3 linked regions of the Homo sapiens genome follow. The protein of the gene in region 2 interacts with the protein of the main gene of each other region in a pairwise test. Each region holds a gene or a part of one and is shown on either strand. Other genes may lie near its edges.

Evidence for each region. The genes of interacting proteins can lie anywhere in the genome.
Region 1: the proteins of TDG (region 2) and SETX interact in a two-hybrid assay, tested with the Homo sapiens proteins (one study listed by BioGRID and IntAct).
Region 3: the proteins of TDG (region 2) and MX1 interact in a two-hybrid assay, tested with the Homo sapiens proteins (one study listed by BioGRID).

Annotation. Positions count from the first base shown.
Region 1 is NC_000009.12:132,323,971-132,331,007, reverse strand, and holds part of SETX (probable helicase senataxin), read left to right. Parts: intron 1-508; coding exon 509-4,684; intron 4,685-7,037. UniProt on the Homo sapiens protein: Probable RNA/DNA helicase involved in diverse aspects of RNA metabolism and genomic integrity.
Region 2 is NC_000012.12:103,968,872-103,975,871, reverse strand, and holds part of TDG (G/T mismatch-specific thymine DNA glycosylase), read right to left. Parts: intron 3,513-7,000; exon of another isoform or gene 2,850-3,512; coding exon of another isoform or gene 2,839-2,849; intron 1-2,838. UniProt on the Homo sapiens protein: DNA glycosylase that plays a key role in active DNA demethylation: specifically recognizes and binds 5-formylcytosine (5fC) and 5-carboxylcytosine (5caC) in the context of CpG sites and mediates their excision through base-excision repair (BER) to install an unmethylated cytosine.
Region 3 is NC_000021.9:41,429,218-41,436,254, reverse strand, and holds part of MX1 (interferon-induced GTP-binding protein Mx1), read right to left. Parts: intron 5,723-7,037; 5' UTR 5,647-5,722; intron 4,225-5,646; exon of another isoform or gene 4,206-4,224; 5' UTR 4,185-4,205; coding exon 4,080-4,184; intron 419-4,079; coding exon 226-418; intron 1-225.

The DNA.
Region 1 (7,037 bases), on a different chromosome or scaffold from region 2:
TATTGTGTAGACTATTTTGTATAATTTGTTGAGTTGCAGATTTTGTGATATGTAGCTGTTCTCAATCTACTGCTATGTAAAAGCCCTTCTCATTGAACAGCAGATGTATTGTGTGTTGGGGAAGATGGACTCTAACTACAGTATGCATACTTTGGAAAATTAACTTATAAGTACATTTAGGGAAGATGGAAAGTTTATGGGGACATACATGGCATGACTAGAAATCAAAACTAGCTAGTGGACAGAAGGTGAGAGTACATAAAGGTGTTACCAATTTGTCTTTTTATGAAAACTCAAAATTCAATTTATATTTTCACTTTCTTGGGAGTTAGGTGTATTACGATTGTGATATAATTATATGCCACAATTATACCATTGTATAGCATAATAATGATGTGGTAAACCAAAATAAGAGAGTTGAGAAACGTATTTTTCTTAACGACTTGGGTGTTGAACCTGTCATAAGTGGTGCTTATTTATCTGAACATCAGCATTTCTTTCATTTTAGGATTCTGGATGGAGAACAGCCATTTGCCCAGATTATTGTCCTAACATGTATGAAGAAATGGAAACATTAGCCAGTGTACTTCAGTCAGATATTGGTCAAGACATGCGTGTTCATAACAGCACATTTCTATGGTTCATCCCTTTTGTCCAGTCCCTCATGGATCTTAAGGATTTGGGTGTGGCTTACATAGCACAGGTTGTTAATCATCTGTACTCTGAAGTCAAAGAAGTCCTCAACCAAACAGATGCTGTGTGTGACAAAGTCACTGAATTTTTTCTTCTAATTTTGGTATCAGTGATTGAACTGCATAGAAATAAAAAATGTTTGCATTTGCTGTGGGTAAGTTCCCAGCAATGGGTGGAAGCCGTCGTCAAATGTGCCAAGCTTCCTACCACTGCGTTTACACGGAGTTCTGAGAAATCATCTGGAAATTGCTCCAAAGGAACAGCAATGATATCTTCACTGTCATTGCATTCCATGCCATCTAACTCTGTACAACTTGCTTATGTGCAGCTGATTAGAAGTCTCCTTAAAGAAGGTTATCAGCTTGGGCAGCAGTCTCTTTGCAAGCGATTCTGGGATAAGCTCAACTTATTCCTTAGAGGAAATTTATCTCTAGGTTGGCAGTTGACTAGTCAGGAAACCCATGAGCTACAAAGTTGCTTAAAGCAAATTATTAGAAACATAAAATTCAAAGCACCTCCATGTAACACTTTTGTGGATCTGACTTCTGCATGTAAAATCTCTCCTGCATCTTATAATAAAGAAGAAAGTGAACAAATGGGGAAGACGTCTAGAAAAGATATGCATTGTTTGGAAGCTTCCAGCCCAACATTTTCTAAAGAACCAATGAAAGTGCAAGACAGTGTATTGATCAAAGCAGATAACACTATAGAAGGTGACAATAATGAGCAAAATTATATAAAGGATGTGAAACTAGAGGACCATCTCTTAGCTGGGTCATGCTTAAAGCAGAGTAGTAAAAACATTTTTACTGAAAGAGCTGAAGATCAAATTAAAATAAGTACAAGGAAGCAGAAGTCTGTAAAAGAGATCTCTTCATATACACCAAAGGACTGTACTTCAAGAAATGGTCCAGAAAGGGGATGTGACAGAGGAATAATAGTATCAACACGTTTGTTGACTGATTCTAGCACTGATGCTTTGGAAAAAGTGTCCACATCGAATGAAGATTTCTCTTTAAAGGATGATGCTCTTGCTAAAACCTCAAAACGAAAAACTAAGGTACAGAAAGATGAAATCTGTGCAAAGTTATCACATGTAATAAAGAAGCAACACAGGAAGAGTACTTTGGTCGATAATACTATCAATTTAGATGAAAATTTGACTGTATCTAACATTGAGAGTTTCTATTCAAGGAAAGATACAGGAGTTCAGAAAGGAGATGGTTTCATACACAATCTTTCTTTAGACCCTAGTGGTGTTCTGGATGATAAGAATGGAGAACAAAAATCTCAAAACAATGTATTGCCAAAAGAGAAACAATTAAAGAATGAAGAATTAGTTATTTTCTCTTTCCATGAAAACAATTGTAAAATACAGGAATTTCATGTTGATGGTAAAGAATTGATCCCTTTTACAGAAATGACCAATGCTTCAGAGAAGAAATCATCTCCCTTTAAAGATCTTATGACTGTACCTGAATCAAGAGATGAGGAGATGAGTAATAGTACCAGTGTGATTTATTCTAACTTGACAAGAGAACAGGCCCCTGACATCAGTCCTAAATCTGACACCTTAACGGATTCTCAGATAGACAGAGACCTTCACAAATTATCTTTACTAGCTCAAGCCAGTGTTATTACGTTCCCATCCGATTCACCTCAGAACTCATCGCAGCTGCAAAGGAAAGTAAAAGAAGATAAAAGATGTTTCACAGCTAACCAAAATAATGTTGGAGATACCTCCCGTGGACAGGTTATTATTATTTCAGATTCTGATGATGATGATGATGAAAGAATCCTGAGTCTTGAGAAACTCACTAAACAGGACAAAATATGCCTTGAGAGGGAACATCCAGAGCAGCACGTTTCAACAGTTAATAGTAAGGAGGAAAAGAATCCAGTAAAGGAAGAAAAGACAGAGACTCTTTTTCAGTTTGAGGAATCTGATTCTCAGTGTTTTGAGTTTGAAAGTTCATCTGAAGTGTTTTCAGTTTGGCAAGATCATCCAGACGATAATAATTCAGTTCAAGATGGTGAGAAAAAATGTTTGGCTCCTATAGCCAATACTACAAATGGTCAGGGTTGTACAGATTATGTATCTGAAGTTGTTAAAAAAGGAGCAGAGGGCATTGAAGAACACACAAGACCACGGAGTATTTCTGTTGAAGAATTTTGTGAAATTGAAGTAAAAAAGCCTAAGAGAAAACGATCTGAAAAACCAATGGCTGAAGATCCTGTGAGGCCTTCATCTTCTGTCAGAAATGAGGGCCAGTCTGATACTAATAAGAGAGATCTTGTGGGAAATGATTTTAAAAGTATTGATAGAAGGACTTCAACTCCCAATTCACGTATTCAGAGAGCCACTACGGTTTCACAAAAGAAGTCTTCAAAGCTTTGTACTTGTACAGAACCCATCAGGAAAGTTCCAGTTTCTAAGACCCCTAAGAAAACTCATTCAGATGCCAAAAAAGGACAGAATAGAAGTTCAAATTACCTAAGTTGTAGAACAACTCCTGCTATAGTGCCGCCAAAGAAATTTCGTCAGTGTCCTGAGCCAACTTCAACAGCTGAGAAACTTGGCCTGAAAAAGGGTCCTCGTAAGGCATATGAGTTGTCCCAGCGGTCTTTGGATTATGTAGCTCAATTACGTGATCATGGCAAAACTGTTGGAGTAGTTGATACCCGAAAAAAGACTAAATTAATTTCTCCTCAGAACCTGTCTGTCAGAAATAATAAGAAACTTCTGACTAGTCAAGAACTTCAGATGCAAAGGCAGATCAGACCCAAATCACAAAAAAATAGACGAAGACTTTCTGATTGTGAAAGTACAGATGTTAAAAGAGCAGGGTCACATACAGCACAGAATTCTGACATATTTGTACCAGAATCTGATAGGTCAGATTATAATTGTACAGGAGGAACTGAGGTACTTGCCAACAGTAACAGAAAACAGTTAATAAAATGCATGCCTTCTGAACCAGAAACCATAAAAGCAAAACATGGGTCTCCAGCAACTGATGATGCTTGCCCTTTGAACCAGTGTGATTCTGTAGTGTTAAATGGAACAGTACCAACAAATGAAGTAATTGTCTCCACTTCAGAAGACCCTCTGGGTGGAGGTGATCCAACAGCACGTCATATAGAGATGGCAGCTTTGAAAGAAGGAGAGCCTGACTCCAGCAGTGATGCAGAGGAAGATAACTTATTTTTAACCCAAAATGATCCTGAAGATATGGATTTATGTTCACAAATGGAGAATGACAATTATAAACTCATTGAACTAATTCATGGAAAAGATACAGTTGAGGTTGAAGAAGATTCTGTAAGTCGGCCTCAGTTGGAATCTTTGAGTGGCACAAAGTGTAAGTACAAAGATTGTCTTGAAACCACAAAAAACCAGGGTGAATACTGCCCAAAACACTCTGAAGTGAAAGCAGCAGATGAAGATGTATTTCGTAAACCTGGCTTGCCTCCTCCTGCATCTAAACCTTTGAGACCTACCACTAAGATTTTTAGCTCAAAGAGTACTTCACGAATTGCTGGTCTTTCTAAATCTTTGGAAACTTCTTCAGCACTTTCACCGTCTCTAAAAAATAAGTCAAAGGGGATACAGTCGATTTTGAAAGTACCACAGCCAGTTCCCCTCATAGCTCAGAAGCCAGTTGGTGAAATGAAGAATTCGTGCAATGTTCTTCATCCTCAGTCTCCGAATAATTCCAACAGGCAAGGTTGCAAAGTTCCATTTGGTGAAAGCAAATATTTTCCATCTTCCTCTCCAGTAAACATTCTTTTGTCATCACAGTCTGTCTCTGACACCTTCGTTAAAGAGGTCTTAAAATGGAAATATGAAATGTTTTTGAACTTTGGTCAGTGTGGGCCCCCTGCAAGTCTTTGTCAGTCCATCTCAAGACCTGTGCCTGTCAGATTTCACAATTATGGAGATTATTTTAATGTTTTTTTCCCTTTGATGGTATTGAATACTTTTGAAACAGTAAGTATGTGTTTCATTTGTATGCCTCTCCAAACTTTTCAAGTTACCTCTTTACCTTGCTGAGTGAAAATGAGAGTATAGTTCAAAAAATCAGCCAGGCGTGGTTGCGGGCACCTGTAATCCCAGCTACTCGGGAGGCTGAGGCAGAGAATTGCTTAAACCCAGGAGGCGGAGGTTGCAGTGAGCCGAGGTCGCGCCACTGCACTCCAACCTGGGCGGCAGAGTGAGACTCTGTCTCAAAAGAAAAAACAAAAAAAAGTATAGTTAAATTAAAATTGACCGTTTCGATTTAGATACTGGTTTTAGATTTCATGTTGAACAGACATTTGTGCCAGCCACTGTTTTAGATACTGGCAATACAGAGGAAACACTTTTTTTTTTTTTTTTTTTTAGGTGGAGTTTTGCTCTTGCTGCCCAGGCTGGAGTGCAATGGTGCGATCTTTGCTCACTGCAACCTTCTGCCTCCCAGGTTCAAGTGATTCTCCTGCCTCAGCCTCCCAAGTAGCTGAGATTACAGGCCTGCGCCACCAGGCCTCACTAATTTTGTATTTTTAGTAGAGAAGGGGTTTCACCATGTTGGTCAGGCTGGTCTTGAACTTCTGATTCTGACCTCAGGTGATCCACCAGCCTCGGCCTCCCAAAGTGCTGGGATTACGGGCATGAGCCACTGTGCCTGGCTGGAAACTCTGCTCCTTGGAGCTGATAGACACAACTCAGGGTGCTAATATACCAAGTGCAGAGGTAACACAGAAGGAAATGTTTATTGACGCACGGGTAAAGGAAGACTTCTCAGAGGAGATAGTTTCCCATGTGCATTTGTTTTGTTTTTAAGTAAGAGACCTCTGCTGTAGTTTTCTTGAGGAGGTGGCAAAGGGTGAATTACATTGAACACAAAGTAATGAATCCTAAATTTCCCTACACGTCAGACTTCCCAGTTTCTTTCTTTCTTTTTTCTTTTTTCTTTTTTTTGAGACGAGTCTCGCTCTGTCGCCCAGGCTGGAGTGCAGTGGTGCAATCTCGGCTCACTGCAAGCTCTGCCTCCCGGGTTCAGGCTGTTCTCCTGCCTCAGCCTCCCGAGTAGCTGAGACTATAGGCTCTCGCCACCACGGCCGGCTAATTTTTTGTATTTTTAGTAGAGATGGGGTTTCACCATGTTAGCCAGGATGGTCTCAATCTCCTGACCTTGTGATCTGCCCGCCTTGGCCTCCCAAAGTGCTGGGATTACAGGCGTGAGCCACTGCGTCTGGCCGCCAGTTTCTTACTCATCACAGCAGCTGCTCTGTGTAACAGCCTCCCCAACCCCAGCACATCCTATTCTGGTTCTTCTCTCCTCCTTACTCAAGTAGAGTTGACAAACGATAAGATTCCCGTTAAAATTTGAGAAAAACATCAAATAATTCTTTAGTGTAAGCATTCAACTGCGTTTAGAAGGATTTTTGTGTGTGTGTTTTCAAGGCAGGTAAGAAGTGGGAGCAAATTTTTAGTTAATCCTCAAAAGAAACTTTCGTGTATACAGTAATACTCTTAAAACCAACAATGTTGAGGTAAATAGTCATGGTTCATTAGCTTGATAGATATTTGAGTGCCTAGTATGTGCCAAGTGCTCTTACAAGCATGGGAGATAAAGTGGTGAACAAGACAGGTGTGAGGTCTCTGCTCTCTGGAAGTGACCATTTGGGATTGAGATAAGGACTCTAGTATGATCTAGAACAAAGGGGACAGGGCACTTTCTGGAGAGATCAGATAACCTCTATGAGCAGATGATATTTACACTGAGACCCAAGTGACTAGGAGTTAACTGTGGGAAGTATGTTACAGGCAGAGTGGAGTGCAAAGACAGTCTGGTAACAAGATTGGAGTGTTGGGGAAGGAAGTGTAATGTACAAAGGGACAAGTCTACTACAAAAGAAGAGAAGTGAGTTGTTAACACTGTACATGGCAAGATAAATGGCTTTTATAAAGCTTGAGTGAACGTATCTTCATCAATGTACTTTATGTTAAATCTTTTGATCAATTCGTACCTCAAATTTTAGCCATTTTTGAGAGTTGCTTTATTATTTTTTTTTCCTAAGGTACTTTTGTTTTAGCAGGAGTTGCTTTATTTTCGCTGGAAAGCACTAAATTGCTTAGAAGCCATTCATAACCCTATGAAGGGTAGACACTTACTTTCATTTCCTGAGTTAAAAGATATTTATTAAGATTTATTTCCTTCAGGACATTTTTGTAGTCTCAGCTTTTTAAAAACAGAATGAGCACAAGTTCCATTTGTACATATACAGAGTTTAAAATAGTCAAAGATTTCTATCTGGCCCATTATAAAGAACATCAGGCACCCCTCATCCCCTCAAGTAAC
Region 2 (7,000 bases):
TGACCAACATGGCAAAACCCCGCCTCTACTAAAAATATAAAAATTAGCCGGGCACAGTGGCATGCACCTGAAGTCCCAGATACTTGGGAGGCTGAGGCAGGAGAACTGTTTGAGCCTGGAAGGTGGAGGTTTAAGTGAGCTGAGATTGTACCACTGCACTCCAGCCTGGGTGACAGAGCAAGATTCTGTCTCAAAAGAAAAAAAAAATGGTGATTAGGTCAAGAGGAGGGCTCTGCCTTCAGGAGTGGGTTAATGCTATTATCACAGGAGAGGGTTCCTGATAACACGATGAGTGGATGAGTTCAACTCCCTTTCCTATCTCTCTGTCACAAGTGCTGCCTCACTGTGTGATTCCTTCTGCCATTTTATGACGCAGCAAGAAGCCCCTCATCAGATGTAGCCCCTCCATCTTGGACTTCCCAGGCTCCAGAAGTAGGAGCCAAAAAAACCTCTACTGTTTATTAATTGCCCAGTCTATGGCATTCTGAAACAGCAACACAAAATAGATTCAGTCACTAAAGAGAAACATGAAATGGATATTTTGTAAACATGTGTTGAATTTATGAAGGAAAAAACCTCTAAACCTCTCTTCTGAACACGATTTAAATTTTGTTCAAAGTATTCTGTTCAAAGGAAACAATGTGGGCTTTCAAAGAAAACAATTAAAAAAAATACTTCTCATGGCCTTAAACCACTATCTCATGGTGTTGCTGTTAGCATAAAACCAGAGAAGTAAACACATATTTGATGAAACTCAAGTTACAGCAAATGCCAAATAATGCCATTAAATAGGCAGGAGAAGAAAAACAGTAGAAAATAAAATGGAAAAGTTTGCTTTACTATTTGGAGAGGAAAGTCATGTTTTCTTTTTCTTTTTCTTTTTTTTTTTTTTTTTTTGAGACGGAGTCTCGCCCTGTCGCCCAGGCTGGAGTGTGGTGGCGCGATCTTGGCTCACTGCAAGCTCCGCCTCCCGGGTTCACGCCATTCTCCTGCCTCAGCCTCCCGAGTAGCTGGGACTACAGGCGCCCCCACCACCACACCCAGCTAATTTTTTTTTATATTTTTAGTAGAGACAGGGTTTCACCGTGTTAGCCAGGATGGTCTCAATCTCCTGACCTCGCGATCCACCCGCCTCAGCCTCCCAAAGTGCTGGGATTATAGGCATGAGCCACCGCGCCCAGCGAAAGTCATGTTTTCTACTGCAAGATACTATACTAATCAGTTTTCATTCTCTATGATATTCATTGAAAGAGAACAGGAAGCTCAGAAAGCAGATTAAAAAGGGAAATGAGGCCAGGCACGGTGGCTTATGTCTGTAATCCTAGTGCTTTGGGAGGGCAAGGCGGGAGGATCACTTGAGGCCAGGAATTCAAGAGTGGCCGGGGCAATATAGCAAGATCGCCACCTCCACAAAAAAATTTTAAAACATTAGCTGGGCATGGTGGTACATGCTGACAGCCCCAGCTGCTCAGGAGGGTGAGGCAGGAGGATTGCCTGAGTCTAGGAGTTCAAGGTTACAGTGAGCGATGATCACACTGCTGCACCCCAGCCTGGGGGACAGAACGAGACTCTGCCTCAATAACAACAACAACAACAACAAAAGAGGGCAAATGAGTACACTTTAAATGGATGAACTATGTAGTATGTAAATCATATCTCAATAAAATGGTTAACAGGAAAAAAAAAAGGCAAACTAAAGCATTTCCTGGATAAGCTTAAATGGCCTGGGGAAACAAAGGATAACAGACCACCCCCAGCGGCTGGGCTAAATGTTGGCAGCTCAAGATAAACAGAAGCCCAATCCCAATGGACAAACCACTGGAGAGGCATTTCCACTTCCAGCTATCTTTAAGGGTAGGTTGGTAAAGCAAAGATTAAGAATGAGTGAGAAAGAGATTAACCTGTATCATAAGAGTTTTATTTCTTTTATTGTTCACAAATTAAATAAAAATAAAGTTATGACTTAGTAAACTACAATACATTAACATGAGAAAATACTATGCAGCTAAAAAATTAAGTTTATTTATCTTATGTAAAAGAACAGGAAAGAGTTTATATATATTTTAAAACAGAAAAGAATACAAAATAGTATAACTAAGGCTACACATAAGGGAAAATATGTAGACAGGGACTAGAAGTTAAGATGTAGAACTATGCTTAGAAGCATACCTGGCACAAAGTAAAATGTCCTTTTTTTCCATAGTTTTATTTAATATTATTAGTAGCTCTATGCAATAAATTGTTAAAATATTGGTTGTTCAACATTCATGATTTAAATATTCTAATGATGAGTTGGATATGGCTAGGTTAGATCTGGAAGTCTTGAGCAGTGGTCCTATGGCAATTCTAACTAAAGAAACTGCAAGTTCTGACTGTGGTCAGCGGCAGCTTCCCGAGATTCTAATAGCACCTTGATTTAGCTTGAATATATAGAAACAAAGGCATATGGTGACAATAAATGAGCGAGCAAAAGAATGCATGAGATGTGGCTGGGTGCAGTGGCTCACGCCTGTAATCTCGGCGCTTTGGGAGGTCAAGGCGGGCGGATCACCTGAGGTCAGGAGTTCAAGACCAGCCCGACCAACATGCAGAAACCCTGTCTCTACTAAAAACACAAAATTAGCTGGGTGTGGTGGCGCATGCCTGTAATCCCAGCTAGTTCAGGATGCTGAGGTAGGAGAATCGCTTGAACCCAGGAGGTGGAGGTTGTGGTGAGCCGAGATGATGCCATTGCACTCCAGCCTGGACAACAAGAGCGAAACTCCGTCTCAAAAAAAAAAAAAAATGTATGAAACGTGTTTTTACTCTGTCACATGGTCAGGAAGGCAATCTACCTACCACTCTCCCATGTTTCTTACTACTACTCTCAGAATTTCACATGTCCCATTTTGAGCACTTCATGAAAATGCAAACTGAAAATACATAAATTAGGGAGACACCGTTCACATTACAACAGGATTCTTTACTTTAAAAAAATTTTTCAAAACTTTTAGTATAGTCGGAGGTCATTAATCATCTTCAGAAATTCTGGGGTTCAGAAGCTGAAAATCAAAATTCTAGAAATCACAGTTGGCTGAATAAAAAGTGAAAAATAAAGAGGAAAAATAATCTGAACTTTTATATTAGGTATATCAAGTTTGAAAGAAACCTAGAAACTTATCTATAATAATGAAATATCCCTTAATCTTTCTAAAAATGGACTGTGGCATTTTACAAAAAGTTAAATTAGAACAGGTAAAGGAAAATAAACCTATGGAAAATCAAATGTGTTAGTTCTGAGGAATACACTATCTTCGAGCATTAAACTTAGTTTGTTTACCTCAACAGCTGCCTAAAAGCCAGAATAAAAGATGGTGGATTACAACATTCTTATTCCTTGGCAGAAGCAAGCATTACATCTACACAAAAATCTTCATAAACTTGAATGCTAGTTAACTAAACAGTTCTGGATAACTGGCCGGAAACAGTGGCTCACGCCTGTAATCCCAGCACTTTGGGAGGCCGAGGGGGTTGGATCACGAGGTTAGGAGTTCGAGACCGGCCTGGCCAACATGGTGAAACCCCATCTCTACTAAAAATACAAAACTTAGTCAGGCGTCGTGGCATGCGCCTGTAATCCTAAATACAGGGAAGGCTGAGGCAGGAGAATTGCTTGAACTAGGGAGGCGGAGGCTGCAGTAAGCCAAGATCGTACCACTGTACTCCAGCCTGGGCGACAGAGCAAGACTCTGTCTAAAAAAAAAAGGGGGGTTCTGGATAATTTTATCTTCTATTATAATAACAACTAAATGTATAAGCAGCATAAACCTGTTTCAACCTCAGTGTGAGGATATTTCTTAAATACATTTGTGTATGCATAATGATCGTTGCTACTTTATAATCCAGAACTCTGCAATGTTTCTGAGCAATAACTCTATGAGAAGGACAGTAACAAAGAGCATTTAGTCATTTATCCTCTCGGGGTATCCATTCCCTCACCATGAAAATGAGGAATTAGATTCAGTGATTTCTACATATGTGGACAATGTATAGGAAATAGGACTAGATCTGTCTAGACTCAAAACAGACCCCAAAGACTTTCTACTTTGTATAACTTCCTGATGTTAAACTTACAAGCACGATTGATTTTATTTCTCTTCGTTCACTTTTCTTCCCCCATCATTTATCTTAGTCTCAAATATTCTTCACTACCTCTCACTCTCCCTCATTTTCCTGTTTACCCCTTTTTCTCTGCTAGCCTCCATTTGCACTTACCTTCTGTTGAACTGCAGCGCTCATAGATTGTTTTTCTGTTGTTTTTTGTTTGTTTGGTTTTTGAGACAGAGTCTCGCTCTGTCACCCAGGCTGGAGTGCAATGGCATGATCTCGGCTCACTGCAACCTCTGCCTCCTGGGTTCAAGTGATTCTCCTGCCTCAGCCTCCTGAGTAGCTGGGATTACAGGCACCTACACCGGGCTAATTTTTGTATTTTTAGTAGAGACAGGGTTTCACCATGTTGGTCAGGCTGGTGTCAAACTCCTGACCTCACGATCTGCCCGCCTTAGCTTCCCCAAAGTGCTGGGATTACAGGTGTGAGCCACTGTGTCCGGCTAGATTGTTTTCTTATAGCTGCCTGGAACTGATGAATTGTGTACAGTCATCCTTTAGTTACTAATCAATCTTTCTAAAAATGGACTGTGGTATGTACCTAGTTTTGCATACATGGGGGACTGGTTGTAGAACCCCTCACAGACACCAATATCTAAGGATGCTCAAGTCGCTTGATATAAAATGGCATAGTATTTGTATATAACCTATGCAGATCCTCCCATATACTTTAGATAATCTTTACATTATTTATAATACCTAATACAATGTAAATGCTATGTAAGTAGCTGTCATCCTGCATTCTTTTTATCTGTATCATTTTTTAATGTTGTTATTTGTCTTTTTTTTTCCCAAATAATTTCAATCCACAGTTGGTTGAATTCTTAGATGCAGAATCCATAGATATGGAAGGTCGACTATATTTTCTGATAGTCTTTCTCAAAACACACATACACACACTCCACGCATAGAGTTCATTAAGAAGTCCAGTTAATTCAGATTTGCTATTTTTTTATTTTTTTAATTATTTTTTTTTTAAGAGATGGGGTCTCACTCTGTCACCCATGCTGGAGTGCAGTGGCATGATCATAGTTGGCTGCAGCCTCCAACTCCTGGGCTCAAGTGATCCTCCTGCCTCAGCCTCCTGAGTAGCTAGGACTACAGGCACACACCACCATGCCTAGCTAGATTTGCTGTATTTCAAAAAACTAAATTTTTAAGGTTTTCTCTAAAATTAATGACTCCAACTTCTTTTATCTTCAATTATTTTACACTATTTTAGGGATTTAAGTTGCTTTTTTCTTTTTTAAGAGACAGGGTCTGGCTGCCACCCAGGCTGGAGTGCAGTGGTGCTATCATAGCTCACAGTAACCACACACACCTGGGCTCAGACAATCCTCTCACCTCAGTCTCCTGAGCAGCTGGGACTACAGGTACATGCATCTATGCCTGGCTAAATTTTAAATTTTTTGTAGAGATGGGGCTTCACTATGTTGCCCAGGCTAGTCTTGAACTTCTGGTCTCAAGTGATCCTCCCACCTTGGCCTCCCAAAGTGCTGGGATTACAGGTGTGAGCCACTGCACCCAGCCTAAGTTGCTATTTTCTAAATACATTTTATTATCTTCACTTAAAAAAAGCATATACCATACTGAATACTTACAAAATAATGAACAAGGCTAAATAATCCAAATGCTCAACTAAAGGGGTCTGGTTATGTAAATTATGATGCGATAGCACCATAACTATTATTCCATTTGGTATTGCTAGATGGAGGTCTGTGTATTCACCATATGTACAGTCTACTAGAAACTGTAAATATAAAGATTTAGAATAAGCCAGTCCTCATACAGTATTCCTCAAATAGTATAATTCCTCATGTAGTATGATTTCAAATTTCTTCATTTTTTGGTGCTCGGAATCAAACAAAACTCCAGATAAAGCCTCATCAGCCCGAAAATGAGCAGGGCTACCAACTTGCTCATTTTGGAGACAAACTGCAGAACCCATGACACTAGCTATACTGGCACCCACATTATACTGTTGATTCACACTGAGTTTCCCATCAACGAACACTGTCCTTGTATCACTTCTCCCTCATTCCACACTTTATCACTGATTTTTCTGCAGCTGAGTATAGGATTGTGCCTCTTCTTTGTAAAAGATGATTCACCATTCCAGTCAGTCAGGATTTATCTGGACTCTGATTAAATCAATCAGTTAATTCCACAAATTCCTCCCAGGCTTGGGTCACTCACAAATTTTATCACCATGCCATCAGCACCCTGACGTTAAGGTACTGAAAGGAACAAAGTTAGGGATAGAGATACATGGCATATAAGTACAGACCTCTCTTCAGTCTGCCTGATTCTTTCAGTAGTAAGTCAGGTTTTTATTTCACCTAACTGGATTGCCATCAGTCCATCTCCATCTTGCTCACTAAGAGAGGCAGTAAAGCACATTTGCTAGCTAGAGAAGCAGACTTTGAAGCTAGGTCATCTGGATTCAAATTTCAGCTCTCCCATTTACTAGCTCTGTGGGCAAGTTCCTTAATCTCTTTATGCCCATGCTTCCACATCTGTAAAATGGGAATAGTACCTAATAATTGGTTAGGAGCATTAAGCTAGTTGGCCTATGTAAAACATCCAAAACAGTACCTGGTATATAATAAATTTGCTATAATAATGACTACTGTAGGTACCTCCTGCCAGCATCCTTCTGATGCTGCCTGTCTAGTATAGGTCTTGCTTTCTTTCTGAACTGATACTGTAGTGTAGTGGTCACTAGTTATGCCACCATGCCCAGCTAATTTTGTATTTTTAGTAGAGACGGGGTTTCACCATATTGGCCAGGCTGGTCTTGAACTCCTGACTTCAGGTGATCCACTTGCCTTGGCCTCCCAAAGTGCTGGGATTA
Region 3 (7,037 bases), on a different chromosome or scaffold from region 2:
AGACAGCAGAGATGCTTGTGTGTGGAAGGAAGGCCGCATGGGGGAGCGGTGAGGAGGTGGCCATCTGCAAGCCATGGAGAAAGGCCTCAGGAGAAGCTAAACCCTGATTTTGGACTTCCAGTCTCCAGAACTGTGAGAAAATAAACTTTTGTTGTATAAGCCACCCTGTCTGTGGTATTTTGTTATGGCAGCCTGAGCAGACTAACACAGAATGTAAGTTCTTACCGCTGCCTCTGGGAAGGGCAACTCCTGACAGTGCCTCCAACACGGAGCTCTTGCCCGAGCTCTGGTCCCCGATGACGGCGATGGCTGGCAGGGCCAGGTCCTGCTCCACACCTAGAGCCCGCAGGGAGTCAATGAGGTCGATGCAGGGGCGCACCTTCTCCTCATACTGGCTGCACAGGTTGTTCTCAGCCACCTGGAGGAAACAAAAATGGAGAATTCTTCATGGCCTGCAAATCATGCTCATGATATGGTTTGGTTCTGTGTCCCTACCCAAATCTCATCTCGAATTGTAATCCCCATAATCCCTACGTGTCAAGGGAGAGACCAGGTGGAGGTAATTGGATTGTGGGGGAGGTTTCCCCCATGCTGTTCTCATGATAGTGAGTTTTCATGAGGTCTGATGGTTTTATAAGTGTTTGGCAAGTTCCTCCTTCAGTCATTCTCTCTCCTGCCACCTTGTGAAGAGATGCCTTCCTCCATGATTGTAAGTTTCCTGAGGCCTCCCCAGCCATGTGGACTGTGAGTCAATTAAACCTCTTTTCTTTATAAATTACCTAGTTTCAGGCAGTTCTTTATAGCAGTGTGAGAATGAACCAATACACTCCATTAAAGACGGCCAACTTCAATAAGTCTAATACACAGGTTACTGGAATCCCCAAAAGAGAATGGAAGAGAGACAGAAAAAAATATTTGAAGAAATAATACATACAATTCCCTCAAACTTAATGAAAACCATAAACCCAAAGATCCCAGAAACTCAACAGACATTAAGCACAGCAAACATAAACATCATCAAGCCATAAGAGGGTCAAATTGCTCAAAACCAGTAATAAAGAGAAAATGTTAGGAGCAGCCAGAGAATGATACAGTGTGAGCAGAGGGACACAAATGAGAAATCTGCTGTCAATCTTATCAGAAGCAATAACAAGCGAGAAGACAGTGAAGCAGTATTTTTAAAGTACTGAAAAACACCATCAATCTAGAATTCTATACCCAGCAAAAATAACTTTTAAAAATGAAGGCAAAACAAAGACTTTTTTAGCCATTCAAAAGCTTAACTAATTCATTACCAGCAGACCTGCACTACAGGAAATGTTAAAGAAGTTCTTTAGGTAGAAGGAAAATGATACTGAATGGAAATCTGGATCTATACAAAGGAGTCTATACTAGAAGGGGTAACTACTACACTTTTTTGTATTCCTTTGCTATCTTTATTTAAAAGATAATTGAATGTTTGAACATCAATAATAACAATGTATTGTGGGGTTTATGATGTATGTAAAAGATGCATGATAGAAATAGTATGAAGGCTCAGAGCAGAGAGATGGAAATACACTATTCTAAGGTTCTCGCACTATACATGAAGTGACAGACTATCACTTGAAGGTTGACTTATTAAGTTAAAGATATATACTAAAAACACCAAGAGTTATACTTAATAAGACAACAAAGGAGACATGATGGAATCATAAAAAATAATCCAAGAGAAGGCAGAAAAAGACGAAAGGGGGAACGAAGAACAGACGGGACAAATAGAAAACAAATAGCAAGATGATATTCTCAAATCTAATTATATTACCAGTCACATTAAATAGAAATGATCTAAATATTCTTAGTCAAAATGACTTTGAAAAAGAAGAACAAAGTCAGAGGACTAGCATTACCTAATTTCCATAATTACTATAAAACTAAAGTAATCAAAATAGTGAAGTACTTGCATAAAAACAGAGAAAGCAGCAGACTTCACACTCGGTCCTGCCTACCTACCAGCAGCTGGGTGCAATTTTCCTAAAGTGGGCTGATTGAGGTTCAGGAAGAAAATATGAGAAAATCATTTTGTCTTTTACCTCTTTCTAATGACTATTTTTGTGCATGCTTCATCATAGACAGACGTTTTTACTAGAATAGCTTCTTTATAACAGGACAAGAAGCTATTCATATTTGGGGTTAGAAGATTGTTTGTTGCAGGGGCTACCCTACACATTGTAGGAGGTTTAGCCAAATACCTGGCCTCTATTCACTATTCACCCTGAGTTGTGACAACCAAGATGTCTCTAGACCTGGCCACAAGTTCCAGGGAGCAAAATGGGCCCTGACTGAGAAAGAACCACAGCCTTACCAAATGCATGAATACAGTTGGTAGCCTCGGTCTTAGTTCACCTTATAACTTTTTGTTTGTTTTCATTTATTTATACTATCTATTTACAAAAGTGTGTCAAACATAATAAAGCAAATATGCATGTACCAACCACTTGGGTTAAGAACACAAACACTCCCAGTACTTAGGACATTGCACACACCTCCCTGGGTCAACTCCTTCACCTCCAGAGGGTCCCTCTATCCTGAGGCTTGCAATCATCACATCCTTGCTTTTCTTTATAGTTTTGCCACCTATATGTTTTTCCCACAATGGTATATTGCCTATTGCTGCCTGTTGGGGAATTTTACGTAAGTGGAATCATTTTGTATATTTCCTGTAACTTGATTCTTTGGTTCAACGTTGTTCATTTGATGCAGCCATTTTGATACCTGGAACTCTAGTTCATTCCTCTTTACTACTGTATAGAATTCTGCTACATGAACATACCACACTCCCAGTATCCATTCCACCATGACAGGCACGTAGACAGGGTCTGAGTTTTGCTGTTATAAACAGTGCTGCTATGCATGTGGCTCCCAGGGGGATGTGCAAGGGTTTACACATGGTCCTCAAACTCCAGCACACAGCAGAATCACCTGGAGAGCCTGGTAAAGCACAGGGGGTGGGCCCTGCCCCAGAGTGTCCAATTCACCAGGTCTAAGAGTGGGAGGAGGGGCTGGTCATTTGCATTTCAGTCAACTTCCCAGGTGATGCTAATGGGCTGGGCTGGGGGCCACACTTTGAGAACCACAGTCTATCCCCAGAAGTGGAACTGCCAGATCACGAGACACACTCTGTTCTCCTTGACTGGAAAAGGCCAAGCTGCTTCCAAAGCACGCAAGTATGAGTGGGTGAGAGTTCCTCCTGCCCCATACCCTGACATAATTACATCTCTTACAGCCAGACAAGAGACGCACCAGGGACGGAAATGCAGAAAAATGTAAACGGTGGTATCAGGGTGGTGGAAAGGTGGTGGTCCTCTGTATTTTTCTAAACGCTTCAATGTTTTTTGAATATTGTTTGAAAAATTGTTTAACATTGCCTAGGAAAACAGAGCCAGCCTGAAACAGACCAGTGATCCACGGTAATAAGAAACTGAGCACTCTGAGTACCTGGACACTCCCTGCACTTTGCTCTCAGCCATATAAAGCAAAGACCATTATTCTCATTTTAGATATGGAAAACCAGGCTTATAACAGGAGGAATAACTACCCACAATCACACAGCTGAGAGTGTCAGCGTCGGGACCAACTGAGGTTGGACTGATTCCAGGGGCCATGATTGGTTCCCACCAAAAATATGTCTTGATTCTGGGCAAAAAATTCACCACGTGGCTTCCCTACAAAGATAATATCTTAATGATGCCCCAGGGTTTGTAGCTTGAGACTGAATCATGATGTGGGCAGGAAAAACAAACCTAGTGCTCCTTGAACCCAGGGCCTGGGCCAGTTCCTTCTAGTATAGATGAGCTGAACCCATCGACAGCTCAGCCAGTGTCCCCAACCCCAGCAGCACCTCCACCCACGGTGAGCTAAGGCAACGAGTCTATACATGGTTGTCAGCTGGCAAGTAGAGGGTCAGGATCTGCGTCCTGGCACAGGAGAGGCGAGAGAGCAGGCATATCTGGGCAGCAGTAGCACCGCTGTAGAAAAGGGCAGCCTCGAATGGGCATGGCTCATGTCACATGGATAGCGACTTTCAGAGAGCAACTTACCGAGCCTGGATTTTTCTGGGCCACAGTAGCATCTCCATTCAGTAATAGAGGGTGGGATGCAGCAGCTGGATCAGCTTTTGCGATGTCCACTTCGGAAACAACCATCTTCCTTCTTTGCAAAGTAAGCTTAAAATAAAGCAGATGCCTATTGAACAGATAAGCAGCTGGGTGCATTCAACCATGGAACCAAACCCACCACCAGAACGGAAGGCCCCTGGAGGTGGGGACTCTGACTAGTTGTTCATGGTGATGTCCCCAGAGCGTAGAAGAGTGCCTGGGACACAGTGTGTGCTCACTGGCTTTTTATTCACGGAAAGAGAAACAGAGTGACCCAAAGAAGCCAAGGTCAGATAAAGACAAACGCTGCCTCCCTGCTCAAGGCGCTTCAAGAATATCCCTCCAGGCCGGGCCCCGGGGCTCACGCCTGTAATCTCAGCACTTTGGGAGGCTGAGGCAGGTAGATCATGAGGTCAGGAGTTCAATACCACCCTGGCCAAGATGGTAAAACTTGTCTCTACTAAAAATACAAAAAAATTAGCCAGGCATGGTGGCGGGCACCTGTAATCCCAACTACTCAGGAGGCTGAGGCAAAGAATTGCTTGAACCTGGCAGGCAGAGGATGCAGTCAGCTGAGATCACGCCACTGCACCCCAGTCTGGGCAACAGAGCAAGACTCTGTCTCAAAAAAAAAAAATAGAATATGCCTCTGTTCCCCAAAATATTTTCTAAAACTATCTCCTGTCATAATTTTAGGTTGAACTTCAAAAACGTTTTCAGTATAAATTTGAATAGTTGCAAAGTATACAACTTCTGATGCAGTTGTAATACAATTAAAAAGTTTACATTTAAAGGCTGGGCACAGTAGCTCACGCCTGTATCCCACCCAGCACTTTGGGAGACCAAGGTGAGTGGATCACCTGAGGTCAGGAGTTCGAAGCGAGCTTGGCCAACATAGTGAAACCCCATCTCTACTAAATATACAAAAATTAGCTGGAAGTGGTGGTGTGTGTTTGTAGTCCCAGCTACTTGGGAGGCTGAGGCAGGAGAATCACTTGAACCTGGGAGGTGAAGGTTGCAGTGAGCCGAGATCGCACCACTGCACTCCAGCCTGGGCGACAGAGCGAGACCCCGTCTTAAAAACAACAACAAACAAAAACTTTACATTTAAAAATAAAATTGTTATAGAACTGTTTCCAATGTAGCCAAGAGAATCCAAATATTACGGTAATTTGATACCCAAACCTTTAGTTTAAAAAACACGTGAGCTCTAAATCTTTTATGCTCTTTCTTTTGATCATCAATTTCATATTGTCATTCTTTTACTCCCACAAATGGGGGAAATGAAATGTCATTCATTTTACTCTTGAAAGCATGTAACTGACTGCCTTATACTTGTCTGCATTACAAATACACACGTATGTATTTGAAATTCATTTTTAAAATGTTGTAGGACAAGTGCCTAAATATGAAATTTTACAGTGTCTAATAATCTTGGATAAAAGTAACTGAAAATCTTTCTCCTATGACTCAAAATAAATGTTACAGAAAATAGCATGCACCAACTTACCTCTAATATACGTTCCTTCAAATAAAAGTAATGTCAACAAGTTAAATGGTATCACAGAGCTGTTCTCCTGCACCTCCTTGAAATCAAGCAAAGTGTACAAGTAAGACCCAAACCCGCGGAACACCCGAGAGTACCCACCCACCCAGTCCCATTCCCAAGTCTGAGAACCGGGCAAGTGCAGGAGGGGTGTGCTCTGAAGCCGATTCTGACTTCCCAGAATCCTTTTCCTATGTTTTGACTATTTTAACTATTTTAACAGATGAATAAAGCACAGAGCTTTGCTGCAAATCTGCTGCCTGGATCAATAATATGTAAGGATGCTCTCCTTGCTTCCCCTCGCAGGAATCTCCCCCGAGAGCCATGTGATCTTTGTCAGTACCATGAGGGTTGAAGGGACAGGTTGTTAAAACAAAACTCATCACCCCTGCCTGTCACCCTGCTCTGTAACATATCTAGCTGCACACCTGAGCCAATGCCATTTCTCCATCACACTGGAGTTCACAGAAACGCCCATGTCAGGAAGGTTGGGAAGTGCTGCCATGGGTTCATGCTGCCTTGGCTAAAGAACACGTCCCCAACACCAATACTTAAAACTATCCTTTTCTGTCTCCCTTCCCCGGGTTTATACACTTCCAGGGCAGGCATCCTTGCTCGATTTGGAAGGGAAGAAAGGGATGTATTTCTTTCTTTTTTTTTTTTTTTTTGAGACAGTCTCGCTTTGTCACCAGGCTGGAGAGCAGTGGCGCAATCTTGGCTCACTGCAACCTCCACCTCCCGGGTTCAAGCGATTATCCTGCCTCAGGCTCCCAAGTAGCTGGGACTACAGGTGCACGCCACCAGACCCGGCTAATTTTTTGTATTTATTTAGTAGAGATGGGGTCTCACAGTGTTAGCCAGGATGGTCTCAATTTCCTGACCTCGTAATCTGCCCACCTCTTTTGTCAGGTAGGATTGGGATGGTTATAAAAGGTAATCCATTGTAAACGGTACTTATGGAGTCTGACAATCTGGGAATTTATTCCCTAAAACTCCCATGCCTTTGGAAATACCTCATGTGCCCAGGGCATCCCAGGCTCGATATCAAAGACCACCACTTCATCTGCCTCTCAGGAGTACCAGTCTTCTGGGCTATGGTTGCCTCAGTTGGCCTTTCTGCAGCCAGATAAGGAGCATCATTGAGACCAGGACTTGTACCACATGACCACAGGTTCCACTCAATCAGCTGAAACAGGACTTGGTGAGTAGATTCCCTTCCCTAATTTGCTTCATAAAATGAGATTCTCTGAAAGCTAAACCTTATGGGTTTTGTCTGTAAACCATAAACGTTTGTACCTTTCCCTGATCATTCGGAACATCAGTTTGGATTTCAGGGGCAGGGCAATCTCGGGAGT